3 separate regions of the Homo sapiens genome follow, and all the other regions are linked to region 1. Evidence: fine-mapped expression QTL. A gene starts in region 1. Each other region holds a variant in brackets. All regions are shown on one strand. Distances are between the middles of the regions. Region 1 holds the start of FTSJ3 (FtsJ RNA 2'-O-methyltransferase 3). Region 2 overlaps CCDC47 (coiled-coil domain containing 47). Region 3 has its middle 7.7 kb from the start of SMARCD2.

Region 1 (7,804 bases):
CAGGGTAAGGTGAATGGGGAGGCTGGGAGGACTGGTGTTGCCCTTTGGAGCTTGGTGAGGAGGGTGGGCCTAGGGCTTGGCGAGTGCCACATCTGGCAGGTTTGGAAATTTCCAAATAAATCCTTTTGTCTATTGGTGGTGCCTGGACCTGGTCCTTGAACAGCACAGCCCTCATTAACAGACTGGAGTCCTAGAGGACTTGGCCCACAGAGCTTTATTGGAGAGATACACACAAAGGCTGTCCACTCACTTCCATAATTTCTTGATGGACATGTTTTTCTCACTGTCCTTCTGCATGACCTAGGGGTGGGAGAGAGAATGAACATTAAGTTACGAACACACACATGCCCTAGCCCACTGCCCCAGAGCCACCACTGGCAAAGGCACAAAGATGGAGGCCTATACCTTGGCTACTGCCATCTCAAAGTCCTCCTGAGTGACATGGACTCGCCGTTCTCGCAGGGCATACATGCCAGCTTCTGTGCACACGCCCTGAACAGGAAAAGGAAATTGAGGCCCCACTGCTGTGCCCCTCATCTGTGGCCCTTGAGCCCAGAGCTTCCTGCCTCTGCCCTGTTTTCAGTGGGTACTCCAATTACCTTCACTTCAGCCCCTGATGCTCCTGGCATGAGCTCAGCAATTTTTCTCAGGTTGATCCCCCGGGTCAGGTTCATCTTCCGAGAATGAATCTTCAAAATGTCCAGCCGGGCCTGGAGATGGCAAGGAAAAGCCTGAGCCCCACACCCCACCCCCACAGCCAGAGCCACTTTGCACAGTGTCCATCACAAACCTCCTCATTGGGGGGTGGGAATTCAATTTTTCTGTCAATGCGCCCTGGGCGAAGCAGTGCCGAGTCCAGGATATCAATCCTATTAGTAGCCATGATAACCTGAGCAGAGAAAGCAAGTGGGGATCAGCTAAACCTCTTCCTCAGCCTGCGTGGCACCCAGGCCTTCCCTGGGCCCATCCCAAGGATGCTACCACCTTACCTTGATGTTCTTGGTGGCCTCAAAGCCGTCGAGCTGGTTGAGCAACTCCAGCATCGTGCGCTGCACTTCACTGTCCCCTCCAGAACCCCCCTCCAGCCGCGAGGAGCCGATGGAGTCGATTTCGTCCATGAAGATGATAGATGGAGCATGTTCCCGTGCCATGACAAACAGCTCCCTCACCATTCTTGCCCCTGTGTGGAGGCCGAGCTGGTGTTAGGGAGCTTATTAGCTTATTAGCTCTCTAACCCCCTACCCCTACCTCTTGCTTCTCACATTGCTAGCCATGGTTACCTTCCCCTATGAATTTCTGTACCAGTTCAGAGCCAGAGACACGAATAAAGGTACAGTCCGTATGATGAGCCACAGCCCGGGCCAACAGTGTCTTCCCAGTGCCTGGAGGTCCATACAGCAGCACTCCCTACAGGGGAACAGCAGGACTCAGGGCAGAAAGCTACACCCCTCATTTCATTCAGTGAACATTTACCGAGTGCTGGGTCCCTTGCTAGATGTTAGGGATACAAAAAAAAAAAAGGAACATCAAGGTCCCTTCTATCCAAACCACCTCACCGCCCTAGGAACACTTCCCCAGCCACTCTTTTCAGGGGGAGGGCCAGCCCAAGCAAGATGCAGCCTATCCCGGTGCCTCCCCAACCCCTGCAGTAGGGCTGGCTGGGGCAGGAGGAGTAAGTACAGCTTGGCCCTCTCAGAGAAGCCCTGCTCCTCACCTTGGGCTGAGCAATGCCCAGTGCTTCGAAGAGCTCAGGATGCTTAACAGGCAGCTCGATCACTTCTTTGATCTCCTTGATCTGTTTGTCCAGTCCACCAATCATCTCATAAGTTGAATCTGGTACTTTCTCCACCATCATCAGTGACACTAATGGGTCTACCTTGTTGGGCAGGATCTTGTGCAGAGTGTAGCTGTCATTCCTTAGAGCCACCCGGCAATTGGGTGTCACCTGGGTGAAGGGGGCGAGTTTCAGAAGTGGTACAGTAAGAGCTGACCCCACCACCACCACCACCTCACCTGCTACACTCACATCATTGATGTCAATGTTTTTGTCCACGTCTACAACAAATTTACCTTCAGGATGTACCTAAAGAAACAAGGGCTCATGACCTTCCTTGACAGCCACCAAATCACTAATCCTACCCAGGAAGACCTATGAGAATCCCACAATACCTTGACAGAACACAGAACCCTGTCTCCCGAGGCTACACACAAAGGGGTGGGAATGCAGTGGAGACCGAGCTGGTCCCTGGGGTCATGCTGCTTTTACCTTGACCAACACTTTCTTCTTATCCATGGCCCGGACTACTTCCCCCACATAGGAGCCCTGCTCCTGCAGCAGCTGTAGCTCCTCCCGCAATAGGCGAACTAGATGGCAAACAGACACAGTGGTCACCTAGCTACTCCTTTGGAGTCTCCAGGACCCAATTCTACGTGCATGAGCTAAGCATCACTCTTATTAAAGGAAGGCCAAAGGTCAAAATTCATGTATTTAAGGAGGCTACAATAGGGCTCAGGAAAAAGAGATGCATGTGAAACTACTAGATGATGACAGGGAGAAAACAGTAAGCACTGCTGTGAAGACACAGTGCAGGGAGATAAGGACAGACCTCAGACAAACTGCCCACATGCGGCTTCCCATCTTTCTCCACTCACCTTTAGCATTTAGTTCGTTCCTCTGTGCCTGCAGCCTCCGGAGGTTTTGGCTCTTATCATTCACAATCAGCTGTGGCAGACAAGAGACAAATTCCATTATTCAAGGGCAGGAGACAGGAGGAGGTAGGATCTTGGCCAAGACCTCACAGGTCTGAATGAGCTGAGGGAAGGGCACAGGGCACCTGCATGTTGTTTCAGATTCTCCAGTATGATCCTAATGACCCTGCCCTGTCCTTCAAGAGTCCCTCTGGACCTTACAGCAGCCATCAAAGAAGGCTGCTTGTCCAATACTGGTCCAGGAGTAACAGAATCTAATGGAGAAAAGTTACAGCTGGCTCATGTAACACCAAATTTCTTGCAGGAAGGCAACAACACCTGGTGGAAAGATTGTTAGGTGAGAAACCTGAGTTCTAGCCCAGCCGCTGTCAATCAAAAGCAAAGTAAAGGTAAGACAATCTATTTTTAAAAATCTAGATCTGTTACCAAACGGCACATGGGTATAGCATCAGCTACCCTGCTTCAAGACTACTAAGGTGAACGAATAAAAACACATGAAAAAGCATTCAAAAATGGTAAACTAAACATAATACCTGCAAATGCACTTGGAATTCAGAATTGTCTTTTGTGGCTTTCCCCCATCCAATTTATATTACAGTTGACACTTGAACAACGCAGGGGGTTAGGGTGAAATTGAAAATCCATGGACCTGTCCAAAGTTAAACTACTAACAGCCTACCGTAACAGTATAACGTAACACTAACAGACTACTGTTTATGTTGTCTGTAAGGCTTACTACTGGAAGCCATACCTTACTGCTGGAAGCCTTACTGGTAACACAAACATTTGATTAACAACATAAACGGTCCTTTTTCTATGGTTTAGCGCTTTAGGCTAGGGCTCTGGGTTGCCCAATTTCTTTCATTCAGTCTCTATGGAATTAGCATTGTCCAGATCCCTCAATGATGCCCTTCCTCACATTCTCACTTCACCCTCACCCAACCTCTTGGTGATAAATTTCAACTCCTGAGCTTATGTTTCCCTTTTATAAGAATCCTTTTCATTCGGGCTTCTTCCAAAAGGGTTGACCTTTGGCTAGAGGTACCTTTACTATTAAGATTTGACTCGAAGATGTGTAACAAACTGTGAACACTAAGACCCTCAAAGAGATGGGACTGGAGGAGAACAAGAGATTGCTTACTTCTGATACATACACCCTACTAGCTAAGAAACAAACAAGAAAGGAGAAGCAGCAGCTTCTTCCACTGCACTCCCAAAGGAATTAGATGGATTTGTGGAAGTCCGTTTCCATCCCCCATCATCACCCTTCCTAGCTCCCTCTGGAGTCCGTCCTCACCTGGAGTTCTTCAATCTTGGACAGATAATATTGGCGGAGTCCGCTGCCTGCCTTCCCCTCCTCCAGCTCCATCTGAAGACACAGAGTGAGTCTTAAACGACAGGTTAAACATCCGAGGGGGTAAAGCCACTTGCAGGGCACTTTGAATAAGGCTTGACACCAGGTAGCTTTGCGTAGTAGAAAAAGTTTGGACTTCGGAGGCTCAGGATCTGGGTTCTAATCCCTCCCTCCCTTGGAACCCTCCATTTTCCCAGGACTAAAATAAAAGAATGGGAACGCCGCCTACCTCATACGACTTTTAGGAGGACCGAGAGGCGATATGATATAGACGGGGGGCGCTTTGCACTGCGTGAAGTGCTCTACAAGCCCGAGGTGTCAGTACTGACGAAGGAGCCAGCGGAACGGAGCCAAAGGACTGGCGTCCCGTCTCCTGCGACCCGTGGGCCGGCCATTCCCGCGCCCATCGCTTCCCTCACTCACTCCGCTTCTACCGCGTCTTCCTCTCCCAGCCTTGCCCTGACTCACCGAGGGCGGCGCTGACACAGCAGATCCGGTCGCAGGCAGCGTCCAGCATGGACTGGTCCAGGCACCTCCGACCCACCCGACGCTCCTGCCCCGGCCCGCTCTCCACTCAGATCACGCTCGCTCCGCACCCAGCCCCGTAACCTGCCGGGCCGCCACTGCACCCGCCATACCTGCTCTGGTCCGTCAAGCGCCATCTTCTCTCTTCAGCAGAGACCGCCGGCATCCGAGCCGTCTTGGCGCGCAAGCGCGGAAGCGGAGGATTGGGACCTGAAGACCAGGCAGAGAAGAATTCCGGGTCAATGGGCGGGGTGTGCGGCGAGACCACACTAAGGGAACCATGATGGGAGGGGCGGCTACTCGAGTTCAGGGGCTTTGGAAGGGGATGAGGAAGGAGTAGAACTCCTCCTCAGTGTTGCCTCATTGAAACTCTGTTTATAGTTCTTGTGATATGCCTTCCTAGTCTCAACTTTCAACTTACAAAACCCAAGGACAGAGTATTGAGAACAATCTAGGGCCACACTCAAAATGGCGGAAAACCTCGAGCCAGGGACGCAGGGGACGCAAGCGGAAGCGGAAGTAGTTAGCTGCATACTTGTGCGGTTCCAAGTGTGGAGAAAGCGGCTCTGGGTCTAGGTAGTGTGCGGAGAGGGGCGCGGGGTGGAATTGCTGCGGGAAGTGGGAAACTGGAAGTGGGAAACTGGAAGTGGAATCTGGTGCTCCGGAAAGAGACGTTCCCAACTTCTACTTTCTCCCCAGATTGAGGGATACTCCCCCTTTCCACCATGGGCAAGAAGGGCAAAGTTGGCAAGAGCCGACGAGACAAGTTTTATCACTTGGCGAAGGAGACGGGTGAGTCCGGATTCGCTCAGTCTGCGAGCGAGCGAGCGATCTCTGCCCGGTTCGCCTGCTCTTTGCGACCATTATGTACCTCTCCTGCAGAAGGGGTGGTCGGTTGCGAGGCCGGAGAAATCCTACTAGTGAAGCAGTTTGCGCACTTGGTTGTTTTGTCCAGGTTACCGTTCCCGATCTGCTTTCAAGCTGATCCAGCTCAATCGCCGCTTTCAGTTCCTGCAGAAAGCCCGAGCCTTGCTGGACCTGTGTGCTGCGCCAGGGGGATGGTTCGTAACACTCGCCACAGGTTGCTCCTGGTGGCCGCTTTCTGGGTTCTGAGCTGGGATGGCTTCCAGTTTCACTGCGGGAGGGGAACCCGAATCCCGGTCCTCTTGGGGGCCGTTTCCTTTCTTGATTGCAGAGAAAGGGCTTGGAATACGTGCCTATGATATGCTTTGGCCAGTACACGTAACACCAGGGATGAGAGATCAGTTGCCAAGAGGGGGAAAAGGATGGCTCTAGGTTTTTAAATTTCTGTTCCTTTTATAGGCTGCAGGTAGCTGCCAAGTTTATGCCTGTATCCAGCCTTATTGTGGGTGAGTAACGGACAGCTCTCCTTGGTGTTTTAAGGGGTGGGTGTATAAGGTATTTTGTCCTGTATTTCTCTCCTCCCTGCTTGAAGCAACCTTTTAGAATACTCTGACCTGATTTCTTCCAGGAGTGGACCTGGTTCCAATCAAGCCTCTCCCCAATGTGGTGACTCTCCAGCAGGACATCACAACAGAACGTTGTAGGCAGGTAATAGGAGTCTCTCTCTTCCTTCCCCCTTTATACGGAAACATCTACATCCCTGAAATCCTCTAAAGGCAAGTTTTTCCTTTTTACCGTGCTTTGAGCACGTTCTTGCCTGACATCTGTACGACAAGACCTATGGCATTCGTAGTGTCCACTCCAGGCTTTATTTAGAGTCAGGGATAAAGGTGTTTGGAATTGGGAGAAGGGCAGAGATCTTTAGTGAAGTCTTCTCCTGTGAATTCAGTGTCAGACTGTAATCTCCATGAAGGTAGAGACATACTGTTTTTGTTTACTATTGTATCTCCTGTGCCTGGTACTGCATTTGGCCCATGATGGGCACTCAGCAAATGACTAGATGGACAAATGGCTGAACCAGGGCCATTCCAGTGTTTCTGTTTCCATAGTTCCTTTTCTTCTCTTTAGGCCCTGAGGAAGGAGCTGAAGACCTGGAAGGTTGATGTTGTGCTCAATGATGGGGCCCCCAACGTTGGGGCTAGCTGGGTCCATGATGCTTACTCACAAGGTACAGGGAGTGTGGTGCTTGGAGATCAGGTGATGGTGGAGGTGGGCGCATGCCCTCCTGGGCTGCAGAGTGCGTCAACTAATTGTCTCTATCCTACAGCCCATTTGACACTGATGGCTCTACGTTTGGCTTGTGACTTTTTGGCCCGTGGTGGCAGCTTCATCACAAAGGTTTTCCGTTCTCGTGACTATCAGCCTCTGCTATGGATCTTTCAGCAGCTGTTCCGCCGTGTCCAGGCCACCAAGCCCCAAGCCTCTCGCCATGAATCTGCAGAGATCTTTGTAGTCTGCCAAGGTGGGCATCATTTCCTTTCTCTTGATCCAGGCTCCCAACTCCCAAAGCACACTTTTTAATATATCCTGTCATTTTTAGGATTCCTGGCCCCTGACAAGGTTGACAGTAAATTCTTTGACCCCAAATTTGCCTTTAAGGAGGTTGAAGTTCAGGCTAAGACCGTTACTGAATTGGTTACTAAGAAGAAGCCAAAGGTGTGTTTTGGGGAATGGGGTCACTCTTGGGTCCTGGAACTCTAGGGAGGTTGGGCCTGGTGGGTCCTACAGGTACCTTAGAAGGGCCTGACCAAGCTTCTCTCTTTTCCTTCCTAAGGCTGAAGGCTATGCTGAGGGTGACCTCACTCTCTATCACCGTACCTCAGTCACTGACTTCCTCCGAGCTGCCAACCCTGTTGACTTCCTCTCCAAGGCCAGCGAAGTGAGTCTCCAGCCTTGAGGGACATGAGGTAGCCCCAGAAACATGGCCTGAGGATCTCCCCTGACACCTTTCCATCCTCCCAAACAGATCATGGTAGATGATGAAGAGTTGGCACAGCATCCAGCTACCACTGAGGACATACGGGTGTGCTGTCAGGACATCAGAGTGTTGGGGCGCAAGGAGCTCAGGTATGGAGTGGGGTAGGCACGGGGGCCAGGAGCCCTGGAGGCAGGGAAAGGCCATGATGTTGGACCTCTGGGAAGAGGATATTGCTGTGCTAAAGGTTTGGGATGGGGGCCTGAGCCTTTTGATTTATGTAGCCGAAGCCCGAAAGGTGGGTAGTGAGCCTAAAACAGAAGGGGGCGGGGACAAAGAGGGAGATGGCAAGATCAGTAATAGTATCTCTGGGGCAG
Region 2 (5,000 bases), 71 kb after region 1:
CAGGGTTCAAGCGATTTTCCTGCCTCAGCCTCCCAAGCAGTTGAGATTACAGGCGCCTGCCACCATGCCCAGCTAATTTTTGTATTTTTAGTAGAGACGGGGTTTCACCATGTTGGTCAGGCTGGTCTCGAACTTCTGACCTCAGGTGATCCACCCGCCTCAGCCTCCCAAAGTGCTGGGATTACAGGCAAGAGTCACTGCACCCAGCCCCACTGTTATATTTTAAAGATCTCATTTTTACTTGTAAACCTGTATTTTTATTTCAGTTTTTCTAACATGGCCATGATGACTTAGTCCACTAAAATTTAGAACCCTATCAGTTAATATTTCTGTCATCCTTTCTCCCACAAACTGCCATCTTATTAGGAGGAAAGTTTGCTGTATCCTCAGCCATCTTTTTGTAAAAATTATTCTTTAAAAGTGTTTTAATCATTTTCAGTTCTCATTCCCTCTCTCTCTCTCTCCTCCTGCTAAGAGAAATTGCTTCAACAAATATGTGGCTCTTTATATTTTATTTGCCCCTTTTTTTGGAATTCTGTTTAAGGTTTGCTTTGTGTAATTTCCCATCAATGATGGAAGAGCAGAAAACGTTTTCTTTTACAGCTGCCATCTTACCAGTTCTTTTCCTATATTAACATTTTCCTTCTTCCATATACTAAAAATTATTTCACCCAAGCATTTAAAGATGTAATTAATATAACAAATATATCATATCAGACTCTTTTAGGCTTATAATTTTTTATCTTTCTGGCCCAGAGTACTAGTAACTGTTTACTTGTCTGGACTGTTTTCCAATACAAACAGCCAATTCTCAGATTCTCTGTATACCAACTGGGTATCCCACAATTGAATTCAATAATAATAATAATTCTTTTTAATTTTGTAAATTTAAATTTTTTTTTTTTCTAGAGACCGAGATTTGCTATGTTGCCCAGGCAGTTCATGTTGCCCTGTCCTTAAGTGATCCTCTCACCTGGGCCTCCCAAAGTGCTGGGATTACAGGCATGAGCCACTGTGCCCAGCCTCAATTCAGTTCTGACACTATCTACCTGGAGTTAGCTTCAAATCCTACAGATTAAAGGGCTCAGCCCCACAAGACTGCCCCACTTCAGATGCAGTCGAATGTCCCAGGTTACCCATACTACCATCTGGACTTCTGACCAACTAACTATTAATCGGGTTCCTATGACCTCCCCACTCAACCAATAATTTGTTAGAATGGCTCATAGAACTTGAAAAGACACTTATATTTACTGGTTTATTATAAGGGATAAAACTCAGGAGTAGCCAAATGAAAGAAAGACACAGGAAGAAACAGGGTTGGGAGTCGTTCGGAGCTTTCATGCCCTCCCTGAGCACACCACCCTCCCAGCAGGTTGATGTGTTCACCAGCTTGGAAGCTCTCTAAATCTTGTTCAAGAGTTTTTGTAGAACTCAATTTCGTCCTCCCTCTCTTTCACGGAGGTAAGGGCAAGGCTGAAGGTCTCTACCCTCTAAGCACTTGGTTTTTCTGGTTATCGGCACCATCCTGAGGCTAACTAGGGTCTATGTTAAGTCACCCCATTAGAATAAACTCAGGTGTGATTAAAAGGGGCTCAGTATAAGTAACAAAAGATACTCTTGTTATTCAGGAAATTCAAAGGGCTTTAGGAGCTCTGTGCCTGAAACCTGGGATAAAAACCAAATATATTTCAGTTTATTCCACATTATTCCATTTAGGTTTTGTTTATTTTTTATTTTTGGACTTGAGTGCTCCTGTGTGAAGTATTGAGTGTATTCGTGTTCTATTACTACATAGCAAATTACCCAAGTGTAGCAGCTTAAAACAACCCTCATTTATTATGTTACCGTTTCTGCAGGTCAGAAGTGCAGCATGTATTGAGTGGGTCCTCTAGGGTTTTAACAGGCTGAAATCAAGATGTCATTCAGGTTAGAGTTCTCTGAAGCTTAGGGTCCTCTTAATGTCATTTGGGTTGTTGGCAGAATTCAGTTCCTTGTGGGTGTAGGTTCCTGTTTTCTTTTCCTTTTTTTTTTTTTTTAATTTTTTTTGAGACAGGGTCTTGCTCTGTCACCTAGCATGGAGTGCACGATCATCACTTACTACAGCCTCCAGCTTCTGGGGCTCAATCGATCCTCCTGCCTCAGCCTCTTGAGTAGCTGGGACTACAGGCATGCATCACAATGCCTGGCTAATTTTTCTTTCTTTTTTTTTTTTTTTGTACAGATGGGGTCCCATTATGTTGCCTAGGCTGGTCTTGAACTCCTGGGCTCAAGCAGTCTTCCTCCTTTTGCCTCCTAAAGTGCTAGGATTACAGGTGTGAGCCACCATGCCTGGCCTTTTCTTTCTTTTTTAGAGATCGGGTCTGGTCTCAAACTCCTGACATCAAGCAGTCATGCCTCAGCCTCCCAGGTAGCTAGGCTTAAAGGCACGAACTACTGTAGTCCCTATTTTCTTGCTAGCTGTCAACTGGGAACCACTCAGTTCCTAAAGGCCACCCTTAGGTCTTTACCATATGTGCCCTACCGCCAACCTTCCCATAAGCCCTTTCATATTTTGACTTTCTTCTTCAAGTAGGGCTATAGTCCCTTTTAAGGACTTGCTTGATTAAGTTGGATACACCCAAGATAATGTCCCTTTTGGTTAATTCACAGTCAGCTGATTAGGGACCTTCTGCCATAAAACAGCCTGATTATGGGGGTAATATTCCATCATATTTGCAAATCCCAATCACTTAAAGGGAGAGTATATGCACCAGCGGGGAGGGAATCTTAAGGGTCATTTAGAAATCTGCCTATCACAGAACCTAACAGGTGAATTTTGTTGTTTTTTACATTTTTTTAAAAGCAAATAAAAGTAACCATGAATGATGAAGACATGGATACCTACGTATTTGCTGTTGGCACACGGAAAGCCTTGGTGCGACTACAGAAAGAGATGCAGGATTTGGTATGTCAGGTTGCTCCAACTCAAATATACGTA[G/A]AACTGTGTCTCCTTAGCACACACATATTCAGCTTCATTGCATAATAAAAGGTCATATCTTACTTTCAATTACTTCTTCCTCTAGAGTGAGTTTTGTAGTGATAAACCTAAGTCTGGAGCAAAGTATGGACTGCCGGACTCTTTGGCCATCCTGTCAGAGATGGGAGAAGTCACAGACGGAATGATGGATACAAAGGTAAATGCGACAGAAGACATACATTTGCCAGGCCTTGGCATTTACAGGACACTCTCCCTAAAAGTCTCATTGTACAAGTTCATCATTTTATGGCAATGTATTAGTTTTACATTCCTTTCCCACACAAATATTAAAATACCTTCTTTAAGCAATAAATTAGCTTGTCAAAAGGACAATTTGATTAGTCAAGAAGTTCTCTAAATCAAGAGCAAATTGTTCCTGGGATTGCTAATGACTTTCAGGTTTTTTTTTGAAAAAGGAATATAGCTTCTAATCTTTTTCGTCATGTCATTTAGTCTTTTTTTTTTTTTTTTTTGAGCTCCAGTTTGTGTGGGAGAAGAGGGATGTGTAGAGAGCCCTCCTCCTTTGTTTTTAAAAAGATGGGGTCTTGAGATGTTGCCCAGGCTGGAGTGCAGTGGCTATTCATGTGTGTGATAGATCTCACTGCAGCATCAAAAACTTCTGGGCTCAAGTGTTCCTCCTGCCTCAGCAAGAGCCCACCATTGTGCCTGGCTGAGAGAGCCATTTCTTTCTATTGGTTGTGTAATGGTAACAGATCTTAGTATCATAAGAATACAGGATAACTCAGAGATGGTTATAAATGTAAGTTCAAGGTGACATGTTTATAAAGGATCCCCTGAAATTATTTTAGGTGTTATCTTTATGCTTTCATTCTTGTTTCGACCATTATTTTGAGAAATATTTTTAGCTGCTCGAAAAGAATCTTAATCATTGGTATGACTAAAAAGGAGTACTACTTTTTTTTTTTTTTTTTTTTTCTTAGTAGAGATGGGGTTTCGCTGTGTTGGCCAGGCTGGTCTGGAATTCCTGGCCTCAAGTGATCCACCCACCTTGGCCTCCCAAAGCGCTTGGATTACAGGCATGAGCCACTGCACCCAGCCTGGAGTACTACTTTAATTCTAAAGAGATTCCCTATCTTATTGAAATTTAATTTTTAAAAAGCTTTAGCCTTGTCCGCGCGCTGTGGTTCACACTTGTAATCTCAACACTTTGGGTGGCGGAGGCAGGAGAATCACTTGAGTCCAGGGATTCAGGACTAGCCTGGGCAACATAGTGAGACCCTGTCTCTACAATAAAAAAATTAGCCAGGTGTGGTTGTGTGTTCCTTTAGTCCCAGCTACTCAGGAGGCTGAGGCAGGAAGATCACTTGAGCCCAGGAGATTAAGGCTATGGTAAGCTATGATTGTGCCACTGCACTCTAGCCTGGGTAAGAGAGCAACACCTTGTCACAAAAAATAAATAAAAAGCAATGAACACGCTTTGGTCTTAATGAAGGACATTGTATAAAAGTAAGGATTGAAAGGTGAATTTCTTTTTTTTTTTTTTTCTTTTTTTTGAGACAGAGTGTTGCTCTGTCGCCCAGACCGGAGTACAGTGGCGTGGTCTCTGCTCACGGCAACCTCCACCTCCCGGGTTCAAACGCTTCTCGTGCCTCAGCCTCTTGGATAGCTGGGGTTACAGGCACATGCCACCATGCCCGGCTAATTTTTTTGTATTTTTAGTAGAGACGGTGTTTCACTGTGTTGGCCAGGCTGATCTCAAATTCTCAAACTCCTTGCCTCAAGTAATCCACCTGCCTCCCAAAGTGCGGGGATTACTGGTGTGAGCCGTTGCACCATCTCAAAGAGTGAATATCTTTAGGAAAAAAAGGGAAATGCATTAAACCTTGCTTTTAAAAAATATTATTTTCTTTTTTTCAGATGGTTCACTTTCTTACACACTATGCTGACAAGATTGAATCTGTTCATTTTTCAGACCAGTTCTCTGGTCCAAAAATTATGCAAGAGTACGTATAAGATAAAA
Region 3 (11,102 bases), 22 kb before region 1:
TCCATTGGCCTGCAGGTAACTCCCAGGGTCACTCATTTTCCATGCCTCTTCTTTATGCCTCTTCTCAGAGTGAGACCATTCCATTTTGATTTGGCGCTAAGGGAATGGATGTTTTGGATGCTTACAAATTTCGTCTGTTCTGGAAATCTTCTCTGATGCAATGGGAGATGTCAGATGGATTTTTATTTTATTTTACTTTATTTTATTTTATTTTTGAGACAGAGTTTCACTCTTTTTGCCCAGGCTGGAGTGCAATGGCACGATCTCGGCTCACTGCAACCTCCGCCTCCCATGTTCAAGTGATTCTCCTGCCTCAGCCTCCCAAGTAGCTGGGATTACAGGTGCATGCCACCACGCCCGGCTAATTTTAGTAGAGACGGGGTTTCACCATGTTGGTCAGGCTGGTCTCGAACTCGTGACTTTGGGTGATCCGCCTGCCTCAGCCTCCCAAAGTGCTGGGATTATAGGCATGAGCCACTGTGCCTGGCCAAGCCACCACGCCTGGCCTCGGATGGATTTTAGATGCCTGATGTAGGTAAAGGGCACGGAGACTTCAGGAAGTCCTGAAGGCTTCTCTACAGGTCCTCTTTAGCTAGTCCATATCTACCATCTACTTCACCTCCCAATACCAGTCCCCTCTGGGAATACACAGCTCTTGTAGCAATGTTACCTGCTAAGGCCCCTGTTCCTTTCCCGTCATCAGGAGAACTCACTTTCTGTACCTGAGCTATGTATGGGTCCTGTCCTACCAAGAGCCTATTATAGTTCATCATGACACAAACGGTGGCAACAAAGAAGTAAAAACATTCTCAAGAGGAGAAACACAGGGCAGTCCTGGGGCAGAAGGGAACCAAGCGGAGAAGGCATGTTTCCTAGGGAGAGTCCTCTCTGATAGTCTATTAACTAGTGTTATCCCAAATACAAGCCAGAGACCGTAACGATTCTGTGTCCTAGTGATCCAAGAGACAGGAATCTTTCCCCCGGGTCCAGATGAATGAACACTGAAGTGTCACCCCACTCAGGACTCCCCACCCCCTTCCTCACTGACCAGCTACCTGTGTCCTGACACATACTGGTTTAAAAAGCTTTCCCGAATAGCCTCACCTGGGCAAAGGATCAAGGCCAGCAGGGTCCAGACACCAAACAGAAGCGTTTTCATCCTGATAAGAAGGGCCAAAGGCTGGAGAGAAAAAGACAGCAATGCTGGAGAAAGTGACCAAAAATATATATATAAGGAAAATTGCTTATTTGATATTAAAACTCAGTCCCTTTTTCTGAAACCTCACTAGTCTAGAAAAATTACAGCAAAAACATCAGCAGTGAAGGTGTACTAAAAGAATGTCTTATATCTATTTATTTCAGTTTAGCTTATGTGCATAGCAAAAACATGGGGGAAAATATGAAAAAGGATGAGGCGATATTATCAAGATTCCTGTATAAGTTGTATTCTACTTACCTTTTTACTAGTTTGCCTCCATCTATTAGACTGAGTCAATAGAAGGGTGCTGGCATGGAAACATGAAAAACTGAGTTTAGACTGGGCACGGTGGCTCATACTTGTAATCCCAGCACTTTGGGAGGCTGAGGCGGGTGGATCACCTGAGGTAGGAGTTTCAGGCCAGCCTGGCCAACATGGTGAAACCCCGTCTCTACTAAAAAAATACAAAATTAGTCGGGCGTGGTGGTGGGTGCCTATAATCCCAGCTACTCGGGAGGCTGAGGCGGGAGAATCACTTGAACTCAGGAGGCGGAGGTTGCAGTGAGCCGAGATCATGCGACTGCACTCCAGCCTGGGTGACAGAGTGAGACTCCATCTCAAAAAAATAAAACAAAACAAAAACTCATTCAAGCTAATTTCTTCTAAGAAAGGCTTCTTGACTAGCCTTATCCCACTTCACAGTCCCTTACTTGTTATACATGATCTCTACCTCACTTTATGCCAAACAAGATTTCTGAAGTTGCATATATTAGTTCACTTTGGTGAATTATTTCAGTGATGTAATCATCACTATACTAGAAATTCCTTGAGGGTAAGAGGCTCTAGTGTACTTATCTTGTGTCTCCAGCACCTAGCACAGAGCCTATGATATTCTGGGTATTCCATAAATGAAGGACTACCCTCCAATTTTGTATTTAATTTTCATACAGTGGGTTTGGAACAGGTCTAACTCCACTTCTATGCTGGTCTGAAAGAGTTTTTTTTTTTAATACAGGGATAACAGGCATATGAAAATTTATACTCCCAAGTGAAGGTTACCCTTCAAAATAACCACTTTGGAAGGCTATCATCTTTTTCCAGGATGACACAATTATTCAAAACCTTTTTTGAAATTATTTATTTATATATTGAGACAGGGTCTTGCTTTGTTGCCCAGGCTGAAGTGCAGTGGTATGATCACAGCTTGCTGCAGCCTCAAATTCCTGGGCTCAAGCAATCCTCCCACCTCAGTCTCTTGAGTCGCAGGGACTACAAGCACACACCACCACACCCAGATAATTTTTTTATTAATGTTTTTGTAGAGACAGGGGTCTCACTATGTTGTCCAGGCTAATCTTGAACTACTGGCCTCCAGTGATCCTTACACCTAAGCCTCCCAAGGTTCTGGGATTACAGGCATAAGCCACCATGCCCAGCCTGAAAGTAATTTAGAACTGGCTTTTAAGCCATATAAGAAAAATTAAGCTGGGTGCGGTGACTCATGCCTATAATCCCAGCATTTTGGGACACCAAAGTGGGAGAATTGCTTGAGCCCACTGGTTTGAGAGCAACCTAGGCAACATAGCAAGACCCCTGTCTCTACAAAAAAATTAAAGAATTAGCCAGGTGTGGTTATGCTCACCTGTAGTGCTAGCTACCTGTGAGGCTGAGGTGGGAGGATCACTTGAGCCAAAGAGTTTGAGGCTGCAGTGAGCCATGACCACACCTCTGTACTCCCAGCCTGGGCAACAGAGGAAGACCTTGTCATAAATAAATAAATAAATAAATAAAGCAAGCTCTCCTCTTTGTTACCGAACCAAACCAGGTCGGTCTGTCCACGTGCAATGTAAAGCCAAACACTGAAGCACCAGACTTTTTATTGCAAGGTGGCTGAGCAAGAAGACAGGCTCAAATATGTCTCTTCAATCTGGAGTCTGGAACAAATTTTAAGTGTGAGGGAGGACACGGGCATAGGTGGAAGTGCTGGCAGGACAGGTTTTGATCCGAAGGACTTCAAACAGTACCACTTATGGTAAGATATGGTAAAGGGTCTTATCACTGGACGTTCCTGGGCTTGGACCCGTTGCTTTTGAAAGTGTTCCTGTGCTCATATTCCAGCCATGTCCCAATCTTTTGGTTCTGTTGAGGGGCAAGACTTTAGTTCCCGGGTTATTTGAGGTTAAAGTCTCCCTTTCTGCACATGTTCTGACTGTAATGACTTGCAACTTCTTGGCTCTGTGCCGGTAAAATAACTTGATACCCCATTATTAGCGGAGTAGAACCAGTTAGAACTAATCCAGCAGTTACACTCTCCAATGTGTAGGTCTTATGATGTTTAAATCTATAACATGAATCCAGATTATTTGTGCTTTAATGGGGCCACAGTGTCACAAACAATTCCTCTTAGAGATTAATCCAAGAACTCCTGCTTTACTCTTCTCTGTAGCTTGCTGATGTTACGTTCTTTTTTTGTTGTTGTTGATGGTTTTTTTTTTTTTTTTTTTGAGACGAAGTCTCACTCTGTCGCCCAGGCTGGAGTGCAATGGCGCAATCTCCGCTCACTGCAAGCTCCGCCTCCCGGGTTCACGCCATTCTCCTGCCTCAGCCTCCCAAGTAGCTGGGACTACAGGTGCCCACCACCACACCCGGCTAATTTTTTGTATTTTTAGTAGAATGGGGTTTCACGATGTTCGCCAGGATGGTCTTGATCTCCTGACCTTGTGAACGGCCTGCCTCGGCCTCCCAAAGTGCTGGGATTACAGGTGTGAGCCACCGCGCCCGGCCTCTTTTTTTTTTTTTTTTTTTCCTGAGATGGGGTCTCACTCAGTTATCCAGGCTAGAGTGCAGTGGTGTGATCATAGCTCACCGCAGCCTCAGACTCCTGGGTTCAAGCAGTCCTCCCATCTAGGCATTCCAAAATGCTGGGATTACAGGTGTGAGCCACTGCACCTGACCTGATGTTACCTTCTGCTACATAGCCTAGCACTGCTGTCAATTTTTTTTTTTTTTTGCGACAGAGTCTTGCTCTGTCGCCCAGGCTGGAGTGCAGTGGTGCAATCTCTGCTCACTGCAACCTCCACCTCCCTGGTTCAAGCGATTCTGCCTCAGCCTCCTGAGGAGCTGGGACTACAGGCATGTGCCACCCCGCCCAGCTAATTTTGTTTGTATTTTTAGAGAGATGAGGTTTCCCTGTGTTAGCCAGGATTGTCTTGATCTCCTGACCTCATGATCCACCCACCTCGGCCTCCCAAAGTGCTGGGATTACAGGCGTGAGCCACCATGCCCGGCTGCACTGCTGTCAGTTTATCTCAGAGACTATGTTCTGCTTTTACAGTCTTAGCAAAAAAACGAAAAAAAAAAAATTCCCATTGCTCATTACTATAAGCCAAGCTAATCGGTTTTTCTTTGTAGTTGCTACTAGTATTATCTCTATGCCTGTAAAGAGTCTTAAGAAAAAACAGTCCTGGGCGAGTTGTTTTTGTTTTCATACCCATATACAGACACATACTTTGTTCTTTGTTGTTTCATGCCCTGCCCTCACCCCACTATCCCCATAGCTCCAATCTTTCATCCTTGTTTTCACATAGCACATTATGATCAGGTTCTGAAACACAAAATTTTGTATTTATCTTGCTAAGGAGAAAGAAAGCAGTAACCCCAAGGAGAAATTATTTTTAATTTATTTTGGAATTCCTTTTGCTTATTCTGTGGATTATATCCCAAATTAGAAATTTAAACTGAGGCTGGGAGCGGTGGCTCATGCCTGTAATCCCAGGACTTTGGGAGGCCGAGGCAGGCAGATTACCTGAGGTCAGGAATTCAAGACCAGCCTGGCCAACATGGTGAAACACTGTCTCTACTAAAAATACAAAAATTAGCTGGACGTGGTGGTGGGCGCCTGTAATTCCAGCTACTCAGGAGGCTGAGGCAGGAGAATTGCTTGAACCTGGGAGGCAGAGGTTGCAGTGAGCCAAGACTGCGCCACTGCATTCCAGAGCGAAACTCTGTCTCAAAAAAAAAAAATGGTTTAAACTGTCTGAAAGTCTTGGCCTGCACTCCAGTCACTGGGAGGTCTTTTGCAGGAGAGGGGTAGGCAGTGAGAGGAGGGTGGGGACGCATGCTGTTGGATTGCTTTGGCCGCGCGTGTGAACTAAACTTCGCGTCCAAGTCTGGGATTCTCGCCTTCCATTCATAGTCAGTGGTTTCTTGCTGCCCTTCCTTCCTCCCTCCCTCCCTCCTCCCTTCCTTCCTTCCTCCCTCCCTCTCTCCCTCTCCCTTCCCTCCCTGCCTCCTTCCTTCCTTCCCTCCCTCCCTCCCTTCCCTCCCTCCTTCTTTCTTTCTTGCCTTCCATTCATATTTTCATATTCAAGGGTTTCTTGCTGTTTTCTATCTTTTCTCTTCTTTCTTTCCTTTTTTTTTTTTTTTTTTTGAGACGGAGTTTGCTCTTGTTGCCCAGACTGGAGTGCAATGGCCCCATCTCCGCTCACTGCAACCTCCGCCTCCCGGATTCAAGCGATTCTCCTGCCTCAGCCTCCCAAGTAGCTGGAATTACAGGCACGCACCACCTTGCCTGGCTAATTTTTGTAGTTTTGGTAGAGATAGGGTTTCACCGTGTTGGCCAGGCTGGTCTCGAACCCCTGACCTCAAGTGATCCGCCCACCTTGACCTCCCAAAATGCTGGGATTACAGGCGTGAACCACCATGCCCGGCCGCTGTTCCTTATAAATACAAGTCACACTGGGCCTCTGCACTCTCTCGTCCATCAGCCTGGAATTATCTTCCTTCTCCCCAAACACTCCTCTATCCAGTTCAGTCTCTTTGTAATG[T/C]GGCCTGCGCTGACCTCGGGCTTCCCAGCCCTCCCTGCCCACGCCCCTCACCGCAGCACCCCCCGCATGCCTACCGCTTTCCCTTCCGCAGCACTATCGCCCTCTAACACCCTGTCACTTACTGATGAGACCTGAAATCAGCGGCTCTGTCTCCCCTGGACTGTAAGTCCCAAGGAAGGCAGGGCCCTTGGTTTTATTCACTCATGGATCCCAAGCACCTGGAACGTTACAGGCGTTCAACGACCACAAAGGAACAAGTGAATGCACGAACCAACGCACTAGATAGATGGGTACCAATCCTTGTGTGAGGGCCACTGCCCCCCACGTGGATACCGGACACCAGGCCAGCTCTTGCTGGCAAGGGGCCTCGGGTCCAGCGGAGAGAGGGGCGAGGACACCGCGTGGCCATCAAGGCTCTTCCAGGAGGACGATCCCTAACACACGTGAGAACGCGTTCAAAAGGCAGTTCCACCCGGCTTCTCCGGGCTTCCGGCGACGGCCAAGGAAAACACGACCGAAATCCTCACCGAGCCGCGGCCGCCCGCTCGCACGCCCCTCGCCCTCGCCGGGCCGCTCCTCACGGCTTCAGCCTCCGCTCCTCGGCCTCGCCCGCTCCGCTCTCAGTCGCCCGCCAAGCGCTCAGACCGTTTGTTCTACACCGCCAGGCGGGGGCGCGCGAGGGTGCGGCCGGAGAGCGGTTTTCCTGATCTGCCTAGAAACTCGTGACGCCCACGCGAAAGCTCAGCAGGGTTGGCTGAGATGAGAGGGGCGAGCAGGAAGCTACAACGACGGGAGGGGAGCGCGGGGAAGATGAGGGTGGGGAAGGCTGAAACCTGTGGGGCAGAAAGCGCGTGTTTGGCGCCGCATAACCACTTCTGAATAACGCAATGTGGAAACAAAAGGAAAGGGATCGTTTGCAGCAAAGCTCGGCTGTATGAGGAAAACAAGAGGTTGTTCTCCCCTGTGGCTGTTGTTTTCGTGGTGCGGCCCGGACACGTGAGCCGGCCCGCGTCTCAGAGAGTTGCGCGCGAAGCCACGTTCCCGCCTTGGACATCCCGGCTCGCTTGGCCGAGCTTGCGGCCTCTGCTGGCTGCTCCCTGGCGGGCTGGGAGATGTATTTGGCGGAGTTTTGACAATGGATAATTTGCAAAAAGTCTTGTTTTTTTGTTTTGAAACAGAGTCTCGCTCTGTCGCCAGGCTGGCCTGCAGTGGCACGATCTCAGCCCACTGCAACCTCTGCCTCCTGGGTTCAAGCGATTCTCCTGCCTCAGCCTCCCGAGTAGCTGGGACTACAGGCATGCGCCACCACGTCCAACTAATTTTTGTAATTTTAGTAGAGACGTGGTTTCACCACGTTGGTCAGGCTGGTCTCAAACTCCTGACCTCAGGTGATCCGTCTTGGGATTACAGGCATGAGCCACTGCGCCCGGCCCAAAGCCCACTTCTTATATGCTGATATCTGCACTGCTGGAGTGCAGTGGCGCGATCTCTGCTCACTGCAAGTCTGTACTCTTCAGGCATTTTACCGCTAGACTGTGCTGTGACAGTATGTGTGTTGAGAACTGTGACCACAATGTGCTCACAGAAGAGGAGCTCTCCCTTACATTCAGTGATCTGGCAACTCTCACTCTGATTCTCCTCATCCTGTACAGCTTCATGCCTTTGACTCTTACTGTGTCTTCTTTGCTTAACTCACCTGTTACCTCCTCCAAGAAGTCTTCATTAATCCCTTTCCCTCATTAAAGGCCTCCTTGTTTCCCCATGGTACCTTGTGAATACTTTTATCTTAGCAGTTGTCATGTGGGGAAATGACCTGTTTATGCATTTATCTTCTTTACCAGCATATGTCAGGGACTGGCACATAGAAGTTGCTCAATAAATGCTTCTCAAATGCTGCGTACAGCACCTGCTACATTATCTTGGCATCCAGTCCTTCTGCTGCCCTGACTGTCCCTTCCTCTCCCTACTCTGCATCCATGTGGGAGATGGACACTTAGCTGCCGGGGTGCTCCAGCTGGGACAGGCTCTGATACAGCTCCGCCAGTGCTGCCATCTTGGTAAACATTTCCCACCATGACCAGACTATCCACATTGCTTCTCATGAAATTCCAACCCCCTGAAGGACATCCATACTGAGGAATGTTCCTTTGCTGGCCTGCTCTAGGGCAAGCACTGGGCCACCTTGCTCCAAGGGCCTTTCTCCAAGCTACTTGGTGGGTGCTACTTTCATGCAGCTGGGCAAGGAGCCAAAATTCCCAGAGTCTGTGCTGGGAATTGTCCCATTGGCTCTGGTTGTATTAAATACTTTATTATTAAATAGTTTGTTAAATACTTTTTAGTTCCATTTAGTCTCTTTGAGTATCTGTAGATGTTAACAGGGCCTCAAGGTTATAGGAAAGTCCCTCCTCTAAACTGTAAGCCTGGGACCATACAAGGGCTCAATAAAAGTTGTTGAATGAAGTCCATGAAAAGTGGGCACTGAGCAGAATAAGTATCAAGGGAGGAAGAGAAACAGACATTCCAAGCTGAGGGAACAAAGGCAGGGGAATATTGCCTCCACTTCAAAGTGTTCCAGGAAACTTCGATTAATCAGGGCCTATCAATCAACTTCTTTTTCTCTGAGTGTCTATGACACTTGCATTTCAGTTTTTTGTTTTTGTGTTTTCCAGACACAACATCTCACTCTGTAGCCCTAGCTGGAGTGCAGTGGCATGATCAGAGCTCACTGCAGCCTCAAACTCCTGGGCTTAAGTGATCCTCCTGCCTCAGCCTCCCAAGTAGCTGGGACCACAGGCACCCACCATCACACTCTGCAAATTTTTTCATTTTCTTGTAGAGACAGGGTCTCACCATGTTGCCTGGTCTGGTCTTGAACCCCTCAAGCAATCCTCCCACCTCAGCTCCCAAAGTGCTGGATGAGTCACCTGCCCAGCCTCACTTTTCAGTTTTAACAGTTTCTTTGCAAGTAATAACAGACCAGACACACAGCTACCAAAAATCGGTGGTAAGTAATGGTTAGTCCCTAGACTGGATTCTAGAGCCAGATCAGAAACAGGTTTGATGAATCCTAGCACCATCACAGTGAGGGTGGGCAAGTGACTGGATCTCCATGCTTTGATTTCTCAAACAGAGATAGAGCCAGGCATAGAGGCTGGTGTCTGTAGTCCCAGGTACTCGGGAGTTTTTAGAGGTTGGAGGATTGCTTGAGCCCAGGAGTTTGAGGCCCCATTAGTCAAGCTATGATCATGCCACTGCACTCTAGCCTGGGCAACAGAGTGAGACCCCAACTCTTTAAAAAAAAAAAAAGAGGTAAAAATAGTGTGTACCTCATATATGGTATCTACCTCCTATGTGTTGTGATGATTAAATGAGCTAATTCACGTAGAAAATGCTCAGTAAATGTTACCTATTCTCTGCCTACTGTGTAGGAAATCTTCCTTTTATCTCTACCATGCCTCAGATATCTCTATTTGCTCCCTAACACCTTAAGGATATTTTATCATAACACAGTTAACTCATTGTTTATATTATCTGATATATCTGATATTAACTGATATTATATTATTGTTTATCATTCCCTCCCACTACACTCAAACATTGTCTGTTCATACATATTTGTTAAGTTACAACAGGGATCAAGGGAGACACAGTATATACCCCAAATAACTGAAAACAGGTACTCAAATACAAATATATATTCATAGCAGCACTACTTGGAATAGCCAAGAAGTAGAAGTAGCCCTACTGCGCATCAACAGATAAATGGATAGGGCCAGGCATGGTGGTTCATGCCTATAATCCTAGCACTCTGGGAGGCCAAGGCAGGAGGATCACTTGAGCTAAGGAGTTTGAAATCAGCCTGGGCAACACAGCGAGATGCTGTCATAAACAAATAAATACAAAGACAAACAGATGAACACATTGTGTTATATACATACAATGGAATATTATTCAGCCATAAGAAGAAAGGAAGTACTGATACATGCTACAAAATGGATGAACCTCAAAAACATTATGCTAAGTGAAGGAAGCCATGCCCAACACCCACCTATTATGATTCCATTTATATGAAGTATCCAGAATAGATAAATCTAGAGACAGAACCCAGATTGGTGGGTGCCAGAAGTTGGGAAGAGGAAGAAATGAGGAGCAACTTCTAATGAGGATGGAGTTTTCTTTTGGGGTCATTATTTTGGACCCCAAAATTTTGGACCTAGGTAGAGGAGGTGTTGCACAACATTGTGAATGTAATATATACCACTGAATTGTGCAATTTCAAACAGTTAATTTTATTACGTAAATCTCACTTCAATTTAAAAAAATAGCCAGGTGTGGTGTATACCTACTCAGCTATTCAGGAACTATCACTTGAGCCCAGGGGTTTGAGGCCAGCCTGGGCAACCTAGCAAATCACTGTCTTAAAAAAATACAAATTTTAAAATAAAAAGATAAATTGAGAGAGAAAAAGATCCTGCCTTCGTAGAGTTTATATTTTAGTGGGTGAGCCACATCAGACAGTAAATCAGCACACACTTAAGTAATGATGTACTGTGATAATCACTTGGTGGGAAGTAGGGTGTGAGAGAACAGAGAGGCTCTGAGATGGGAAGGGGATGGGTAGTTTGAAAAACTGCAAGGAGACCATCTGGGCCAATGCTTGGAGAGCCAAAGGCAGTGATTTAAAATGAACCCAAGGAGGTAAGCAGGGACCAGGTCCTGCAGAGCCTTAAATGTCACAGGAGGGAGTGTGACATTCAATCTAAGAGCAATGGGGAGCTGGGGAGGGTTTTAAACAAGGGATTGACAGGAACTGAGTTATATTTAACCGTTTGATCTGCTTTATTATTATTGAGACAGTGTCTTACTCTGTCACCCAGGCTGGAGTGCAGTGGCACGATCTCTGCTCACTGCAACCACTGCCTCTTGGGTTCAAGCAATTCTCGTGCCTCAGCCTCCTGAGTAGCTGGGATTACAGGTGTGCACCACCACGCCCAGCTAATTTTTATATTTTTAGTAGAGACATGGTTTCACCATCTTGGCCAGACTGGTCTCGAACTCCTGACTTCAAGTGATCCACT

What was found. PIP is the estimated chance that this variant, and not a neighbour inherited with it, causes the effect. A credible set is the group of variants that fine-mapping cannot tell apart.
Region 2: its variant is the best candidate, but not a certain one, in a credible set for the expression of FTSJ3 in whole blood (TOPMed, PIP 0.63).
Region 3: its variant is the best candidate, but not a certain one, in a credible set for the expression of FTSJ3 in whole blood (INTERVAL, PIP 0.63).

The regions. Positions count from the first base shown.
Region 1 is chr17:63,824,412-63,832,215 of GRCh38, reverse strand. FTSJ3 (FtsJ RNA 2'-O-methyltransferase 3) reads left to right here and starts at 4,553. Exons shown (of 21, transcript NM_017647.4): 1 at 4,553-5,164; 2 at 5,288-5,380; 3 at 5,544-5,649; 4 at 5,912-5,958; 5 at 6,081-6,160; 6 at 6,581-6,680; 7 at 6,780-6,974; 8 at 7,053-7,168; 9 at 7,287-7,391; 10 at 7,479-7,579. The coding sequence starts at 5,314. It overlaps PSMC5 (proteasome 26S subunit, ATPase 5), which reads right to left and starts at 4,785. Exons shown (of 12, transcript NM_002805.6): 1 at 4,702-4,785; 2 at 4,007-4,078; 3 at 2,653-2,722; 4 at 2,267-2,364; 5 at 2,027-2,083; 6 at 1,715-1,945; 7 at 1,281-1,407; 8 at 990-1,180; 9 at 791-889; 10 at 600-710; 11 at 406-492; 12 at 197-300. The coding sequence starts at 4,725. The coding sequence ends at 247. SMARCD2 (SWI/SNF related BAF chromatin remodeling complex subunit D2) reads left to right here. Exons shown (of 13, transcript NM_001098426.2): 13 at 1-135. RefSeq lists enhancers at 4,395-4,444, 4,825-5,104, 4,241-5,440.
Region 2 is chr17:63,754,416-63,759,415 of GRCh38, reverse strand. It overlaps CCDC47 (coiled-coil domain containing 47), which reads left to right. Exons shown (of 13, transcript NM_020198.3): 7 at 2,846-2,947; 8 at 3,066-3,176; 9 at 4,898-4,983. Among named protein-coding and RNA genes, the nearest start is that of STRADA, 15 kb to the right of the region's middle. The variant G/A (reference allele first, on the strand shown) is at 2,981.
Region 3 is chr17:63,844,874-63,855,975 of GRCh38, reverse strand. No RefSeq gene overlaps it. Among named protein-coding and RNA genes, the nearest start is that of SMARCD2, 7.7 kb to the right of the region's middle. RefSeq lists a silencer at 3,153-3,447. The variant T/C (reference allele first, on the strand shown) is at 6,025.